2 separate regions of the Homo sapiens genome follow, and region 1 is linked to region 2. The links come from fine-mapping of genetic effects on gene expression. A gene starts in region 2. The other region holds a variant in brackets. All regions are shown on one strand. Distances are between the middles of the regions. Region 1 overlaps DYNC1I1 (dynein cytoplasmic 1 intermediate chain 1). Region 2 holds the start of DYNC1I1 (dynein cytoplasmic 1 intermediate chain 1).

The links. PIP is the estimated chance that this variant, and not a neighbour inherited with it, causes the effect.
Region 1: its variant is fine-mapped to the expression of DYNC1I1 in esophagus mucosa (GTEx, PIP above 0.99).

Annotation. Positions count from the first base shown.
Region 1 is chr7:95,925,678-95,934,020 of GRCh38, reverse strand. All of the region lies in intron 6 of DYNC1I1 (dynein cytoplasmic 1 intermediate chain 1), which reads right to left. Among named protein-coding and RNA genes, the nearest start is that of DYNC1I1, 160 kb to the right of the region's middle. The variant T/C (reference allele first, on the strand shown) is at 4,940.
Region 2 is chr7:95,768,057-95,776,399 of GRCh38, reverse strand. It overlaps DYNC1I1 (dynein cytoplasmic 1 intermediate chain 1), which reads right to left and starts at 3,846. Exons shown (of 17, transcript NM_001135556.2): 1 at 3,627-3,846.

The DNA.
Region 1 (8,343 bases), 160 kb before region 2:
GCAAACTTTCTTCTATACTACTGTATAGAATGTGAACCGTGATTGTTCTCTAGGCTAATCTTTCATTGGCACCAATGGGTGATCCCAGACTGAATTTATGAATTAATAATAGGGAGCTCTAAGTGTCGGGTTTCATTTTATGTTACATCTTTTACCACCACTAGGCTCAAAATAAATCCTGCTAAGAATAGCCAAGGAGAAAAGGCTGTGGGTGGCATAACAAGGGCGACTGAAAGGCGGGTGTCTCAAAGGCAGGTGTCTCATTCACTTTAAGTGTTTACATAATTTTATGTGAAGTTTTTTTTAAAAAAAATGTGTCACTGCCTTCAGTGCAGTGTCATGTCACCTCTGCAAGGGTTTGGATTCAAATGGTGTGTCTATCATGAACAGAAATGCCAACATGTTTAAAAGCCATTTCTTCATGAAAATATAGGTTTTGCCAAAACCCACATTTGGTGCCATTTCTAAGCTACCAAAAATGTCAATTCACGTGAGCATCAATTATTACTCTTGCTTTACAAGAAACAAAATTATTTCCTTACAATTCTAGAAATTGTTAAGTTTCTGTATCTGATTAACCCTTTTGAGACACATCAATGGCTAAAATGGCTTCATCTGAGGCTGCTTCCTTTCTAATGATACTTTAATACACATGAACAAACAGACTGGCATTGTTAGGAATGAGAATCTCAAACCGGCTGTGGATTCATTTGGACTCTTCTTTGCTGTGGTTGCTGAGACAATGACAGCTGATATTTTATCACAAATGAAGCTACTCTAATATGAATTTTCATATTTAGAGATTATGTTTTTAAAAAGTATAAATAAAGATTCTCTGTGCTGGCTGCTGTGGCTCACATCTGTAATCCCAGCACTTCGGGAGGCCAAGGTGGGAGGATTGCTTGAGGACAGGATTTTGAGACCAGCCTGGGCAACATGGTGAGACCCCCATCTCTACTAAAACATTTAAAAATTAGCCAAGTGTGATGACACAAGCCTGCAGGCCCAGACACTCAGGAAGCTGAGGCAGGAGGATCACTTGAGCCCAGGAATTCAAGGCTGAAATGAGCTATGATTGTGCCACTGTACTCAAGTCTGGGCAATAGAGTGAGACATTGTCATCTCAAAAAAAAAAAAAAAATTAAAAAATAAATAAAGATAGTCTGACAAACTAGAAAACTTTAAAATGATGTGCTACTGTAAGTCTTATGCCTTCTGAGTTGTAAAAATCAGGTATTTCAACTTTTAGCCCCTGGTTCTAGTGTCAGTGGACAAGCTAAGCCATGATCGAAACCTACTACTATGATCTTGAACAAATCACTTAACATTTGTGAGGCTTGGTGTCCTCATCTAAAAATGGAAAGGGTTCAACTTGATAATTGTGGAAGTTCCTAGAAGCTTGACATATTCAATGGTTTCATGTTTCTAATATATGCAGTGTGATCTTGACATTTTCTCAGGCGGGGTCAAGCTGACAAATACCCTACCCAAGGACACTTCTAATTCCTTCATATGTCCTTTAGGTAGACAGATTTTTCCATTCTGCTCAGGCCTTTCCCTAGAGTAGTCCCTGCCCAGCAATTAGAAGCATAAAATGTCCATTCTGAATAATGCCCACTGTCATGTTTGAAGTCCCTGACCAAGTTAATTAACCCCTTTTTTCTTTATAGTAGCCATGATTATCACATTAATTTCTCTGTTGTGAAAATGTGCCGCCATAGTGTGTATGTGATTTTCCAGTACTGGTAGGAGAAATAGAGACTTTTGCCAGTTTTTATTGCTGCATTCCTTTCAACAGTAAAAGCTGAATATAAGCTACATAGTCACCCATAGGAGATGATAAAATAAGTTTAACTTTATCCTGCTATGGACAATATGTGACAGCTAAACAGAATGAGGTAGAGAGCAACATATTTTGACATGAACAGCAAATCTTGAAGGTATTCTGTTAAATGGAAAAATAGGTATTGAGCAATATGTACTATATAATACCATTTATGTAAAAATAGACACAATTATACATATATAAATAGTAAATATAAAATTGCATATTGTGAAATCCTTTAAAACCTTTCAGACATGTTGGAAATTAAGACGCTGGCAGCAAGTTAGACTGACAAGTCATTATGATTAACGCCACCACAATCAATAGTAAAATAACATTTAGCTGTATATTAATTTAAATATAAAAAATGCAAACGAAAATGATCTAGAACAGAGATCAACAAAATTTTTCTGTAAAGCGCTAGTCAGTAAACATTTCAGGCTTTGGGGGCCATGTGGTCTGTATTGCGGCTACACAGCTGAGCTGTTGCAGTGTGACAGCAGCCAGGGACAATATGTAAATAAATGGGCGTGGCTGTGTTTCAACAAAACTTTATTTACAAAAACAGGTAGGGAGCTGGATTGGCCTTTGGGTTAGAACTTGCTGACCTCTGAACTAGAACAATACAAACTAGTCTGATGAAAGGAATATCTATGTGGAACAAACTAGAACTGATGAAAATAAGTCAAGTGGAATTTTCTCTTTATCAGTATTATTAGATTCTTTTAAGTTAAAAATGTAGTCATAGGCCGGGCGCAGTGGCTCACGCCTGTAATCCCAGCACTTTGAGAGGCCGAGTGGGTGGATCACTTGAGGCCAGGAGTTTGAGACCAGCCTGGCCAACATGGCGAAACCCCATCTCTACAAAAAATGCAAAAGTTAGCTGGGTGTGGTGGTGCAAACCTGTAATTCCAGCTACTCAGGCGGCTGAGACACCAGAATTGCTTGAACTGGGAGGTGGAATGGAAGTTGCAGTGAGCCGAGATTGCGCCACTGCACTCCAGCCTGGGCTACAAAGTGAGACTCTGTCTCCAAAAAAAAAAAAAGTATTCATGAGTTACTTCTATACTTAAAAACATATTTAAAAGATTAAACTGATAATAAAAGAATAATTAGAAAATATTTCACCTGACATTTAATGCAGCAATACTCTGAATTAACCAGTTTTTCTACGATCTTCCCAATAAGCATCACATGAAGCAATCTTCCTTCCAGGAAAATGCCAGGGCTTTGTTCTCCAATTAGCTGTCCTGTGAACACTGAAATACTGTAGCCTAGAACCTACAGAGCTAACAGACAAGAAACAATGGGGGCAGAATCCCACTCTGAAAAGCTTATGGAGCAACCAACCTCTCCAGTAAATGAGGACAAGCTACCCTGTTATGTTTCCTTTTTAAATATTTTTTTTACATCAAAAACACATTGCAAGGTAGTGAGGACTTTACGGACATCCTACCAAAACAGGCTGAATAATTCTGATATTGAAAACCAGCCTAGTTTTAATTAACTGCCAGGACTCAGCCACATCCTCAAGCTCCAGATAGCCAATAACAATCTTGTAATTTCTAAATGTGAATGCCACTCAGGTGGAGACCAAATAGTGAGGTTTCAGCTTACCTCTTAAATTGTAAACATAAAATTTCAGATATCCATAGCAACCAGACCTCCCTCCACCTTAGACACTTTCCTCAAGAAAAGGGAGGAAAAAGCATTTCTGCGGTGGACAGTACATAGACAGTTGCCCATTAAAATGGTAACATTGAAATATAAATAGCCCAACCTTTTCATCATTTATTGACAAATGACTTACCAAACTGCTAGTGAAATCCTTTAAAAACCTCTCAGATATGCTGGAAATTAAGACACCAGCAACAAGTTAGATTGACAAGTAATTACAATTAATGCCACCCCAATCATTAGTAAAACACATTTAGCTATATATTTGTAGGCCAATATTTAATAGCAAAACAGAATTCTAAGAACACCACTGTGCCCAAAAGCTCTCTGATCTTTACCAATTTAGCAACCAGCCAGGCTAGAATAGAATAAATATCACATGGTCTGGGAAAATGGGCTGTCCTGATTCTGAAAGATTGTGCTGGCTCTTGATATGGGGAGCCATCTGTCAATGCTCTTTGAAAAAGTGAGAAATCAGGGCTACTTCTCTAGCATTCGTGAATCTAACCTTCTGTGCTGTCACCCTTTCCTTGGGAAATATTTCTTAAGAGCCAGATGTTAGTATTCATTTCAGTTCACAAAACAGTTACTTCCCAAGGTCTATCAGCAGCAGAATGGATAAATAAATAATGGCATAGTCACACAGTGAAATACTACATAGTCATGGTAGTGAATGAACCACATCTACATACAACAGCATGAATGCTTCTGAAACATAATGTGAAATGAAAGATGTTAGCCATGAATGCATATGTACCATATGATGACATTTGTAGAAAATTTAATAAGGGGCATAACTAATCTATGATGTAGTGGTTACCCTTGGGGGAGGAGAGACTGAATATGGACTTCTGGGTTTCTCCTTATATTCTGAATCTTGATCTGAAGACTGGTTTCATGGTATGTTCATGTCAAAAATATCAAGTTGTACACTCCTGATTTGAGTACTTTCCTGCATGCTTTTACGCTTTCAAAAAATTTACAAGCAACAACAAACAACCCCAGCACAATTGTTAATGAGCAGCATACTTTCCAGGCTCTATGAAGGAACTAGGAAAAATATGACAAGCTTTAGCCTCCAGAAACTTATATTCAAGTAGGAGAGATGAGTATAAAAAGCAAAACCATATCATTTTATGTAATAAGGTTACATAAAACATAAAAAGTATTACATATTACAGTGTTAGGTAAAGGGAGTTCCAGGAGCAATTTCTTCTGCTCTCATTGTGAGCAAAGATCACAGTAGGTGACACTCAGCCAGCCTTTGAGGACTGAGTTCAATAAATACAGGGTGAAGGAAAGGGATATTCTAGGCATGGGCACCCTGGGAGGTTAGGGCATTGCAGGATGGAAGAGCAGAAAATACTAGTGATAGAATATGAAAATCATCCACATTGTGTGGGCCTGGACAATTAAAACATGCTCATCTTTATGCAT[T/C]TGTTGAGTACATCACAGTTTTCCAAAGGACACTTTACTCGTACCCAGTTGCAGGACTCTTATCTTCAAACGAGGAGTATCTTGAACACTGTTGTATCAACTGTGTAATACCGGTAAGTTTGGGGACGGAAGGGAGGGAGAAAGGAAAGAAGCCAGGCTCACATAGTAATACTCTTAACAAGCACAAGAAAACAGCAAGAACCACCACTTATGCTTCATAATTTATATGCATTGTCTGTTGCATTTCATCCTCACAACTCTAGGAGCTGGAGACTATTATTATCTCCATTTGGTGGATGCCAAAACTGAGGCTTAGTGAAGCTCACTAACTGCCCATGGCCGTATTAGCCAGTTGAAATCATTTCCCAGTAAAAAGTCTTTTAAAAGCCAGCTCTCAGGTAAAAGGCAACAGAGAACAGCCACTGCTGGAACCTGGCGGCACTAACACTGAAGCCCAGGTGACAAACACTGCACGTGGTGAACATTAAGTGCGCCCTTGGAATCTGGGGAGTGGGGTGGGGCACTGATACTCCCCCTGCAGCCTGTGTGGCAGTGGGAGCCCGTGCAGAGAACAGGCTCTAGCCAGTTCCCAAGCCCACTACAGTCTGGGCTTCTTCAGCCACTCAGCTCCTTGCACTAACAGGGGGCTGATTTCCTCTTCAGGCACATTGTCACTTGGGGTCTTTAAAACTTACAGCACTCTGGAAAATGTGTTTTTTGAATAGAGGTGTCTTTAAAAGGCACAGGAAATAAAGTAACTTAGGTCTGAACCATATTGAGAAAATACCTGGAGGAGGTTATCTGGACACCAGAAATGAGGACTTGGCCTCCTTTTGCAGGAACTACAATTTAACAGCAATGTCAGGGAAGTCACAACATTTCTACCAGGAAATATCTACAGAAATGGGTGCTATCCTGAAGGAGGAAGCAAGGCAGTACTAGTTGGGAGGCAGGAAGCTTTGTTTTGTAAGTCTGACTCTCCATTTTATTTGCCCTGGCTGTTCTTCCATAATGTAGGGTCTGATAGCAAACTGCTGAAACCAGGCCAAGTGTGGCTGGCAGGGCGCAGGCTTCCACGCCACACCACAACACAGCCCTCCTGCTATTTCAGGCCTTGGGTTCTGTGAAACAGACGCTGCTACCCTCCATCCTGGGTTGTGTGAAATTATGCGGTGGTTTGGTGAAGTCAACAAATAACTAGCGTGAACCACATTTTGGGGGAAATAAAAAAGCAGCTGGCATCAGTTCTGGTCTTCAGAAGGCAGTGAATAAGGACAGCTATCCTCTGTTGCCTCTTATCTGAGAGCTGGATTTTAAAAGACTTTTTACTGGGAAATGATTTCAAACTAACGGTTAGATTGCAAAAATAAAAATAGTATGAAGAGTGTCTGTATGCCCTTTACCCCCACACTCAACTATTGTTAATGTTTCATGTTATCATTTGCTCAGCCATCCTCTCACTCTCTCCCCCATCCCCATACTTCTTCGTGTATCTCCTAATTAAAGGGATACATTCTTCCATAACCCATAGAACAGTTATCAAGCTCAATAAATTTAACATCTATATAGTATTTTTAACTAATCCACTATTCATATTCAATATTCTCAGTTAATCCAATAATGGCCTTAAGTCCTAACACAAATGCCACCTCTACTATCACCCCATCCCTAACACTTCCCTTTCCCTTGTGACGCTCCCGTAGCCCTTAGATTTGCCTGTCTTCTGACTATTGTTATGTTCTGCCTCTCATTGTATGGACGGTCACCTCCCCTACTAGACTGACAACTTTTTGAAGTTCAGGTAAGTATCTGTTGGATGACTTTCCAGGTGCGTATATATAATATATTAGGGCTAGTATAAATGGTTGCAGAGTTCATTAACTTGTATTAGATGCTTTAAGGACTTCCATGATGTCATTTTTAAAAATGAACACTTTTTTTCCCCTCTTTGCTTGGGAAGATTCACATACTGGAATAAAATCATCTGTAAACAGAATTATTAAAAACTACAGCAGTTTTTGCTCATGAGGTCAGTTTGTTAAAATATTTTTACAAAAATTTCATTGTATTGTCATATATTTTGAGTATATAATTTGTTCGAAATTTGGATTACAATTCCAAAGCACCTTAACAAATGAAAAAACTAGTTTGAACACACACTCTGTATCTATCTGCTAAAGATTAAATTAAACACAATATGATATGGGAGGGACGACAAGTGCTGTCCATGTTGAAAAAGAGTCTCAGGAGAGGGCAGGTGGATCATTATGATTATAAAAGAACAAGGTCAACAGTGTAGCTATTAAGACAGTTAATAGACAGGTAGAGGAGGTAGTCTGAATCACAGTGTGGTTCCTTCACATCCCTCACTTGTGTCTTATCCTTACTTTAAGTTTATGTACCTTTTATTCATCTAACCACGTATAGAGAGATGAGGAAAATTTTAATGTCTTTGAAAACAGTTTCGGAAAACTGTCCATGAAGCCAAAGTTACTGTACCTTCTCAAAGGGAAAAAATAAATACATCTAAAAATAAAAAACAAAACCCTTATAATTCTAACATTCAGAAATAACCAACATTAATCATTTTTTGTAACCATTTCAGTCTTTTCTATGCATGTGTATAAAATAGATATCATTTTATCAGTATCAAATCAGATTCACATACATTTTTGTAATGTATTTATTTTGTAACTTTTTTTAACTTAAAATATATTATAAGCTGTCATTTAAAATGGCTAAATAGTACTTCACAGTATAAATGCATCTTAATTTATATAGCTAGTCTACCAGTAATAGTATTTCTAGATTTTTTACTTTGTGATATTATAAAGAATACTGCAATGAGCATTCTTACAGTCTAGTTAAATCTTTCCTGTCATTCTTAATTACTTCCTGCAGGAACAATTCCCAGAAATTGAATTGCTCAGTATGTACATTGTTTGAAATCTTATGATGATCAGTAAAACCAAGCTGCCTTTCAGCAAGATGAAGATGATTTTTAACTCCTGTAGCACTCTCCTCTGGAGCTGCTTAATGCACACCCTTGCCAACCCTGGGCATTATATTTGACAACTAAATATATGCAACAGGGCTCCTTGTTTAAATTTGGATTTCTTTAATTTATGCATCAGGGTAAATATTAAGGAACTTTATTAGAAGTTTGTACTCTCCTTTTATGAGTTTGAGGCTACAGATATTTAAATGATAAAAAGAAAAACTAAAGAAGACAAAATAACGTTTAAAGCATTATTTTAAATCCAGTAAAATGTAATTCAACTCCACATAATAAAACTGGCATAAGAAAGAAACAAGGAAGGTTTGATCCAAGTTTAAGCACAAATGTCACTTGTGAACAAAGCTCTTACTCTGCATCTATGAAGGATCAGATTATTTTGTAAAAT
Region 2 (8,343 bases):
AAGAAGGTTCCTCCAACAAAGAATCAAGGATGTTTTATGAATATGTGAGCTCATGAGGATTAGCACCTAGGCAGAGGTATCTATGTTACGATGGAAACTTCACTCTGAGATTCTGGGGCCAGGCCTCACTCAGAGAGGAATCAAGGAACACAAGTCCAGGATATTGATGAAAAGTCTCTGTCAAGAGGAATAATTTTTTTCTTTTTTAAGACAGGGCCTTGCTCTGTCGCCCAGGCTGGACTGCAGTGGTGCAATCTCGTCTCACTGCAACCTCTGCCTCCTGGGCTCAAGTGATTGTCCTGTCTCAGCCTCCCGAGTAGCCTGGGATTACAGGCACGAGCCTCCAGCCTGGTCTCTAACTCCTGGCCTCAAGTGATTGGTCTGCCTTGGCTTCCCAAAGTGCTGAGATTACAGGTGTAAGCTACTGTGCCCAGTCAAGAGGAATAACTTTTACATGGACCTCGTCAAGGGTTTATACATTGCAAAGAAGAAAAATGAGAGTTGAATTAATTTGAGTTAACTCTCAAAACAAAAAAGTCAACTCTAGAAGTTCCTAGTTCCAGCACAGTTCCCAGGAGAATATATGTTCTCACATGCTCTAGGGGATGCAGAAGCCACAAAGATTTCTAGTAAAAGAGATCCCTGATTAAGGTAGCAACTATTTACACAGCATTTGAGATCCACAAAGTATAACAGCTACTTTCATTAAGGAGACAAAAACAATGCCATAATTTATTTTAAGGGGCCATGGGTCTACTTTGAGTGTGCATATATTATTCACAGTTACCAATCAACTGGCAAAAAGTGCGGCTATACTTGTGGCTTTAAGAAAATAACAATGGATCACACTGAAATTGGAGAGCAAACCTGAAAGATACAGACATACACTCGCTTTTTTGTCTCTCACACAGCACAATAGCCAAAATGGATGGGTCCTAGTTTTAGAGTCTTTGGAGAGATCTCATTTGAATCCTACCTCTGCCATTTATTAAATGATGTTGAGTATGTCATTTAACTCATTTAATTATTTGGAAAATATGGATAATAATGTCTACTTCATAGGATTAATATAAGAATTAAAATGAGATAAGAGAAGAGCTTGGTATTCAATATATGAAAATTAACCAGTGTAATTGTTTCATAGTACGGAAGAGAGAGGTTAAAACTCCTGGCCTGGAGTCAGGCCTTGATTCAAATGCTGCCTTGCTCAACTTAGTAGCTGAGCAAAAGTTACTTGACACCTTTGTGTCTTAGTTTCCTCATCTGTAAAACAGGATTACAAACAATATCTGCCTCATAAGATTTTTGTGATGTTTAAATAAGTTAACACCTGTGAAAGTATTTTAAAATGCAATGCCTGGTAAAGTGCTCAATATATTTTAGCTACTGTTATCAATCTTTGTTTCAAGTGTAGGGAGAATAAAGTAATGAAGGAATATATTTGTTTGAAACAGATTTTGAAACAGATGCATGTGACCTTTTCATTTGATGCTACGTTAAACAACAAAGAAACTGGAGAAAACGGTAACAGGATGAAGCCGGTGCACACTGTCTGTACTAAGAGGGGTACCTAGATTTCAGATTTGGCATGCATTTTACAAGACTGGTCTACATCGCTGTTTTTATGGACAGAGCAGCACCCAGGCTGGATCCTTGACTCAGCACTGTCATCAAAGGCAAGGCTCATTTATTAAACGTAGACTCGGGAAGGAGTATTTTTGGAAGCAGAGGGATTGGGAAGAAAGACCCTAGAGCCTTCTCTGAGATATAAAACATGGTGACTGAAATGCCAAGTGACTTCTTACTCTCTTCGAAGTTAGTCAGAAACTGAAGACCATGGACCACTACTTTAAGAACTCTGCCCCTTTTCCTGCGGGTCGAGTTTATTTTCTCTGCTCATATCCCTACTGGTGATTTACCTAAAGCTTTAACAGTAAAACAATCATGCATGTTTTCAATAGCAAAGAGGGAGGAAAGGCTGGGGGTGGGGAAGGACTGCAAGCCAGCCCCTCCTCCTCCAGGGGACTGTGCACCAGCGGCTGCAGCATCTCAGAGGTCCAAAGAAGGAGGAAGCAAGTGCATTTGTATCTGAGGCCTGAGACAAGGAAGACAAAGTAAAATGCTGAGATGCTGTGGGCCAGAAACAGGGCTAAGAGCTTGACAGGCTGGAAAAGCCTGCATTCGACCCCCAACTGTATTCTAAAAACTTCCCAAGGATGGTGCTAGAGGTTTTAAGAGGAATGGGTCTTGGAGCACTGGATCCTCAGACCTAAACAAATATTCGAGAGTTAGTTCTTATGAAGAGAACATGTGGTAACTCAGTGGCAGGTGTTTCAGATTTTATTTTATTGAGAAATATGATCAAAAGAGCTGAGTTAGGACCCCTTTTTCCACACCAAACCTTTTTGAACAAACTTGGCATTTTAAATAATTAGAGGTAGTATTACATTCTCACCAGTACCCTCAGCTTGCAAATTGCACTGAATATTCCCTTTTCAAATTTACTAACACTGATCAACGTATATCTCTATAATTTCCACAATTAAAGTATGTACACAGACTGGTTACCCATGTCTGTGTTAACATCAGGCGTTGGGTTGTCACCTGCAGTTGCCTATGCCTTACTGTTAGCTATACTTTTTGCTAATCTGGAATATTTGGAAGCAATTCTTCACAACTCTGAACTACAATAAGTCTACAATGCCCACTTGAAAGGCATTCCAAGCAAGAAAATGGCTGGCTACTTGTTCCTGCCCCTTACCTAGGATTAGTAGAGGCCAGAATAGCGAATATATTCCATCTTCTGCATGTTGTTGAGTCTCTGATCTCCTATGTAATTTCCTGTCCTGATCCTGGGCTTCTGTTTAATCTTATTAGCCAAGGTACAAGTCATGAGACTCCCGCACACTCAGTTCCCATCAGCGCTGCCAGGATCACTGCCCTTATGATGACGACGCACGGATTTATAAGGCCAGAGCGATTCCGAATGGGAGCGGGGGAAGGAGAGCCAGGCGGCCGTGAAGGTGTTTACCAAAACAACATCCCCCAGCCACACTTTTTCGCAGCAGAGAGAAACTGGCATCTTCTCGCTTTGAAGTGTTTAATTAATGCCCTGCTGGAAGTGAATTCGCTCCCTCCGACTTGCAGGGTAGTGACAGCATCTAAGAGCTTTGCAGACAGCTCGAAATGTAATCAAACAGCATCCTTTCCCCTCCCTCTGCAGCTTTCCCCCTCCTCCAGGGGCAGTCAGCCGGTGGCCCAGAGGGGTGCAGATTTCAGCGCCGCTCGCCCACTGCTCCCCCGGGGAAGACCGAGGCGGGGCGCACTGGGACGCCCTTCCCAGCCCACAAGGTGGGCGACCAGGTGGTGACACCACGACCCTTCCTTCTCTGCCCTAGTCTCTCGGCTCTGCCGAGAGGGGGGTGTCACTGGGGGGCTTTGGCCGCCTTCGGGCTCAGCGGAGCACGCAGGAGCCTGGGCAGGGGGCCAGGACAAGGGTCCGGCTGCGGCTGCAGGGGCCTCGGCTCCAGCCTGGTTCCCAGCGCAGACGACACCGGGGTGGGGAGGGTTGGGGAGAGGTGCGGAGGCGGCCGTCCGGGGAGCGGCGACATCCCGCTCCAGTTTACCTGGACGCGCTCGGCAGCGGCGGAACTGGGCTCCCCGAGCCGGCGGCGGCTCCTGGGCGGCGGCAGCGTTGGTGCAGGCGGCTCCCGAAGGTGGCGGGGCCGGCGCGGGCAGGATGTGCTGTCTCACGCTGCGCCGGCCGCTCGGCTCGCGCTCCTCCGGGAGCGATCACTTCCTCTCTCCCAGAGCCTGACACTGACAGCTCCCCGGAGCACTCAGTCTGCGGGGCTCGCCCCGCCCCCTGCCCACGCCCTCCACGCCCGCGCCCCTCCTGAGGGAGGGCCTCCGCTCCGCGTCTTCCGCGCCCGGTCTCGCCAGGAGGGGGTGGCGCCGCTCCGTAGGCTGGTGGCGAGCAGAGGACCTGGAAAGGTCAATTCGTCTATCCCTCTAACGTCGGTAGGACTTAGACCTCAGTTGCTGCAAAGAGAAGAGCTTCAATATTCTGGGAGCTCCTGCTGAAATGCCACCATTGAACAACTTTCACTCCCAGGCAACTACACTTCTTAAGGTCATTTAAATAGAAATAAAGCTCAGATCTACCTGTTGTACACAATGACTTATAGGTCTGATTGATCCCAATTTTTCTAGAAGAAAAAAGAATTAAGTGTGTGTGTCTGTGTGTGTGTGTGTGTGTGTGTGTGTGTGTGTGGTGTGGTGTGTGTGTAGCTTGTCTTCACATTGCTTCTTAAAGTCCCAGCTTTTAAAAATCTGGGTAACTGGCCAGACGCGGTGGCTCACGCCTGTAATCCAAGCACTTTGGGAGGCCGAGGAGGGCGGATCACCTGAGGTCGAGAGTTGGGGGACCAGCCTGACCAACATGAAAAAACCCCGTCTCTACTAAAAATACAAAATTAGCCGGGCGTGGTGGTGCATGCCAGTAATCCCAGCTACTCGGGAGGCTAAGGCAGGAGAATGGTTGAACCCGGGAGGCGGAGGTTGTGGTGAACCGAGATCCCGCCACTGCACTCAAAGCCTGGGCAACAAGAGCGAAACTCCGTCTCGGGGAAACAAAAAAAAATCTGGGTAACTATTATTGGACTCTGCAAAAAACAAGCTTGCCACAACAGCTAAGTTATAAGGCCAAAAAATTGAGTTTGGGATGTTAGGGGGTTTGGTATCATTTTATAGATGAGCTTTTCATCATATTTCTTGCACATCTGTGGTGTATTTTTACACATTAGAATGTAAATTAGTGGAGGGCAGGGACGCTATCTTGTTCACTGCTGTATTCTTAGTATCTAGAACAGCATTCTGATATATAATGGGTACTCAGTAAATATTTATGAACTTATTAATTCACAAGTACTACAGTAATTTCAAAATAAATACAGATTCTAGTATGAATACAGTATGAATACATACTCATCTGTAAATGGCCATCCTTATTCTAAAACTTTGGCCTCCCTGGCTAATCTACTGCGATTGTAACTATGGCTAGAAATGAAGAGGTTAAATGTCTAGGTAGAAGGTATTCAAGGTATTCCAGAAGGAAAAATCTAGGAAATAAATATTTGCCACTACCGTGACTGAATATTTAATACATGTCAATTCTACATACATTTTTCTTTAACTTTTCTATAACATTATGTAGTACATATAACGAATGCCATGCCTCCAGAAAAGGAACTTGAGTCAAAGAAGTTAACTCCCTTGCCCAAGTTCCATAACCACTGAGTGATCTAGCTGAGATTTGAATTCCCATTCATCTGCAGCTTGTACTTTAACTACTTTGTATTTTGGTCTTTCCAACATGGCATTGCTTTTGTTGTTGTTGTTGTTTTGTTTGTTTGTTTGTTTGTTTTTTGAGACAGAGTCTCCCTCTGATGCCCAGGCTGGAATGCAGTGGCACAATCTCGGCTCACTGAAACCTCCATCTCCTGGGTTCAAGCGATTCTCCTTCCTCAGCTTCCTGAGTAGCTAAGATTACAGGTGCACACCACCTAGCCCGGCTAATTTTTGTATTTTTAGTAGAGATGGCATTTCTCCATGTTGGCCAGGCTGGTCTCGAACTCCTGACCTCAAGTGATCTGCCTGCCTCAGCCTCCCAAAGTGCTGGGATTACAGGTGTGAGCCACCATGCCTGGCCTCAACATGGCATTGTTGAGTGCCCACGAAGTAGGAGCTGGGACTTAGACACTGGACCAAATTGAAGACTAGCTAAAACAGGGATGGGGCGGAGGCAGCTTTCCATAAGAGATGCTCACCAGTGTGCCATGTCAATTTACCACTGCCGTGGCAAAACCCAGGAGTTACCACTCCCTTCCATGGCAATGACCCCATGACCCAGAAGTTACTACCCTTTCCCTAAAAATTCTGCATAAACTACCCCTTGATCTACAAGTAATTAAAGTAGGTACAAATATGACTGCAAAACTACCCTGAGCTGTTACTTTCTGCCTGTGGGGTAGCCTTGCTCTGCAGGAACAGTCACAGAGCTGTAACACCATCAGAGCTGTAACACTGCCACTTCAACAAAGCTGTACTTTTCAACCCTACCACTGGCTCACCCTTAAATTCTTTCCTGGGCAAAGCCAAGAACCTTTGCGAGCTAAGCTCCAATTAATTTGGGGGCTCCCCTGTACTGCATCGCACACAACCTGCAAAGCATTGTGCTTGGAGCTTCACATGATTTAAAAAAGAGAATATAATCCCTCTTCTTGAAGGGGTTAAAATCCAGTTGGAGGTGCAAGGATAGGTAAAGGCAACATAATTAAGGACAAACAATAAGGAAATACCCAAAGCAGTACAATGGTTTGGGTGGATGAGATGGAAGGAGGAAATTAGAATTATGACAATAGATAGTATTGAAATAGGTAGGGTTTTAGAGCAGAAATGAAGAGCAGAGAACATTTTCAGGCGTAAACAAAGCTCCAAAGAAGAGAAAGAACAAAGTGTACTCAGCAAATAGTGAGTGGGCCAGCTTTTTGGATCATGACAGACTCATGGGAGAGCCAACTGGGGCCTTGAGAAGGGCTGTAGAGCAGATAATGGAGAATCATTAAAGGCCTTTGAGTAGAGAATGACACTTGGGAAGAGTCATCTGGGGCTATCTTCGGGTAGAGGATTGAACAAGCAAAAGCTTAAGAGACAAGTTTAAAGTTCATTCAAAGAATCCAGGTCAGGATTTAAAAGGCCTGAGTTTGCCAAGTTGTATTCATGACAAATAGCCTGTAATGTATGCCCACAGCAAATTAAGCCCTCAATTTCAAAGTTAGTTATAATATTATCACTTCTCAGTATTTAACCAAAATAATTCAAAGTAGGATTTCAGAGAGATATTTGCACATTCATGTTCAATGCAACATTATTCACAATAGCCAAGAGGTGGAAGCAACCCAAATGTTCATGAACAGATGAATAAGTAAAGAAAATTTGGAATATATATGCATACAGTAAAATTTTATATTTAAAAAGGAAGAAAATCCTGTCACATGCTACAGTGTGGATGAACTTGAAGGACACTGTCGTAAGTGAAATAAGTCAGTTACAAAAAGTAAAATAGTGTATGATTCCACTCATATGAAGTATCTAAAGTAGTCAAAATTGTAGAAAAAGAAAATGCAGGCATACTACGGAGATATTGTGAGCTCAGTTTCACATCACCAAATATCACAATAAAAGTGAGTCATACACATTTTTTTGTTTCCTAGTGTATATAATAGTTATGTTTACACTATACTGTGGCCTATTAAGTGTGCAATAGCATTATGTCTAAAACATATACATGTCTTAATTTAAAAATACTTTATTGCTAACAAATGCTAATAATCATTTGAGCCATCAGTGAGTTGTAATCTTTTTGCTGGTGGAGAGTCTTGCCTCAATGTTGATGGCTGTTGACTGATCAGGGTGGTTGTTGCTGAAGGTGGGGTAGCTGTGGTAATGTCTTAAAATAAGACAACAATGATGTTTGCCTCATCCATTGATTCTTCTTTTCATGAAAGATTTCTCTGTAGCATGTCATGCTCTTTGATAGCATTTAAACAAATTTATGGGCACATAGAAGGTATTTAGTATTTATGAGGTACAGGAGACATTTTGATACAGGCATGCAGTGTGTGTTTGGTAGCCCTTTATCCACAGAACCTTCAAAACTGAAGTGAACTATGTCAAACCCTGCCACTGCTTTATCAAATACGTTTATGTAATATTCGAAATCCTTTGTCATCATTTCAACAATGTTCATAGCATTTTCACCAGCAGTAGTTCCCATCTCAGTATATCACTTTCTTTGCTCTTCCATAAGAAGCAACTTCTCATTCATTGAAGTTTTATTATGAGATTGCAGCAATTCAGTCACATCTTCAGACTCTACTTCTAATTCTAGTTCTCCTGCTATTTTTATTACATCTTCAGTGATTTCCTTCACTTAAGTTTTGAGCCCCTCAAAGTCATCCATGAGGGTTTGTATTAGTCCATTTGCATTGATATAAAGGAACCCCAGAGGCTGGGTAATTTATAAAGAAAAGAAGTTTACTGTGGCTCATGGTTCTGCAGGCTGTACAAGAAGCATGGTACTGGCATCTGCTTCTGGTGAGGGCCTCAACAACCTTACAATTATGGCAGAAAGCAAAGGGGGAGCTGATGCATCACATGAATAGAGTGGGAGCAAGAGAGAGAAGGAAAGTGCCACAGTCTTTTAAACAACCAGATCTCCTGTGAATTCAGAGTGAGAACTCACTCATTACCATGGGGAGGGCACCAAGCCATTCATAAAAG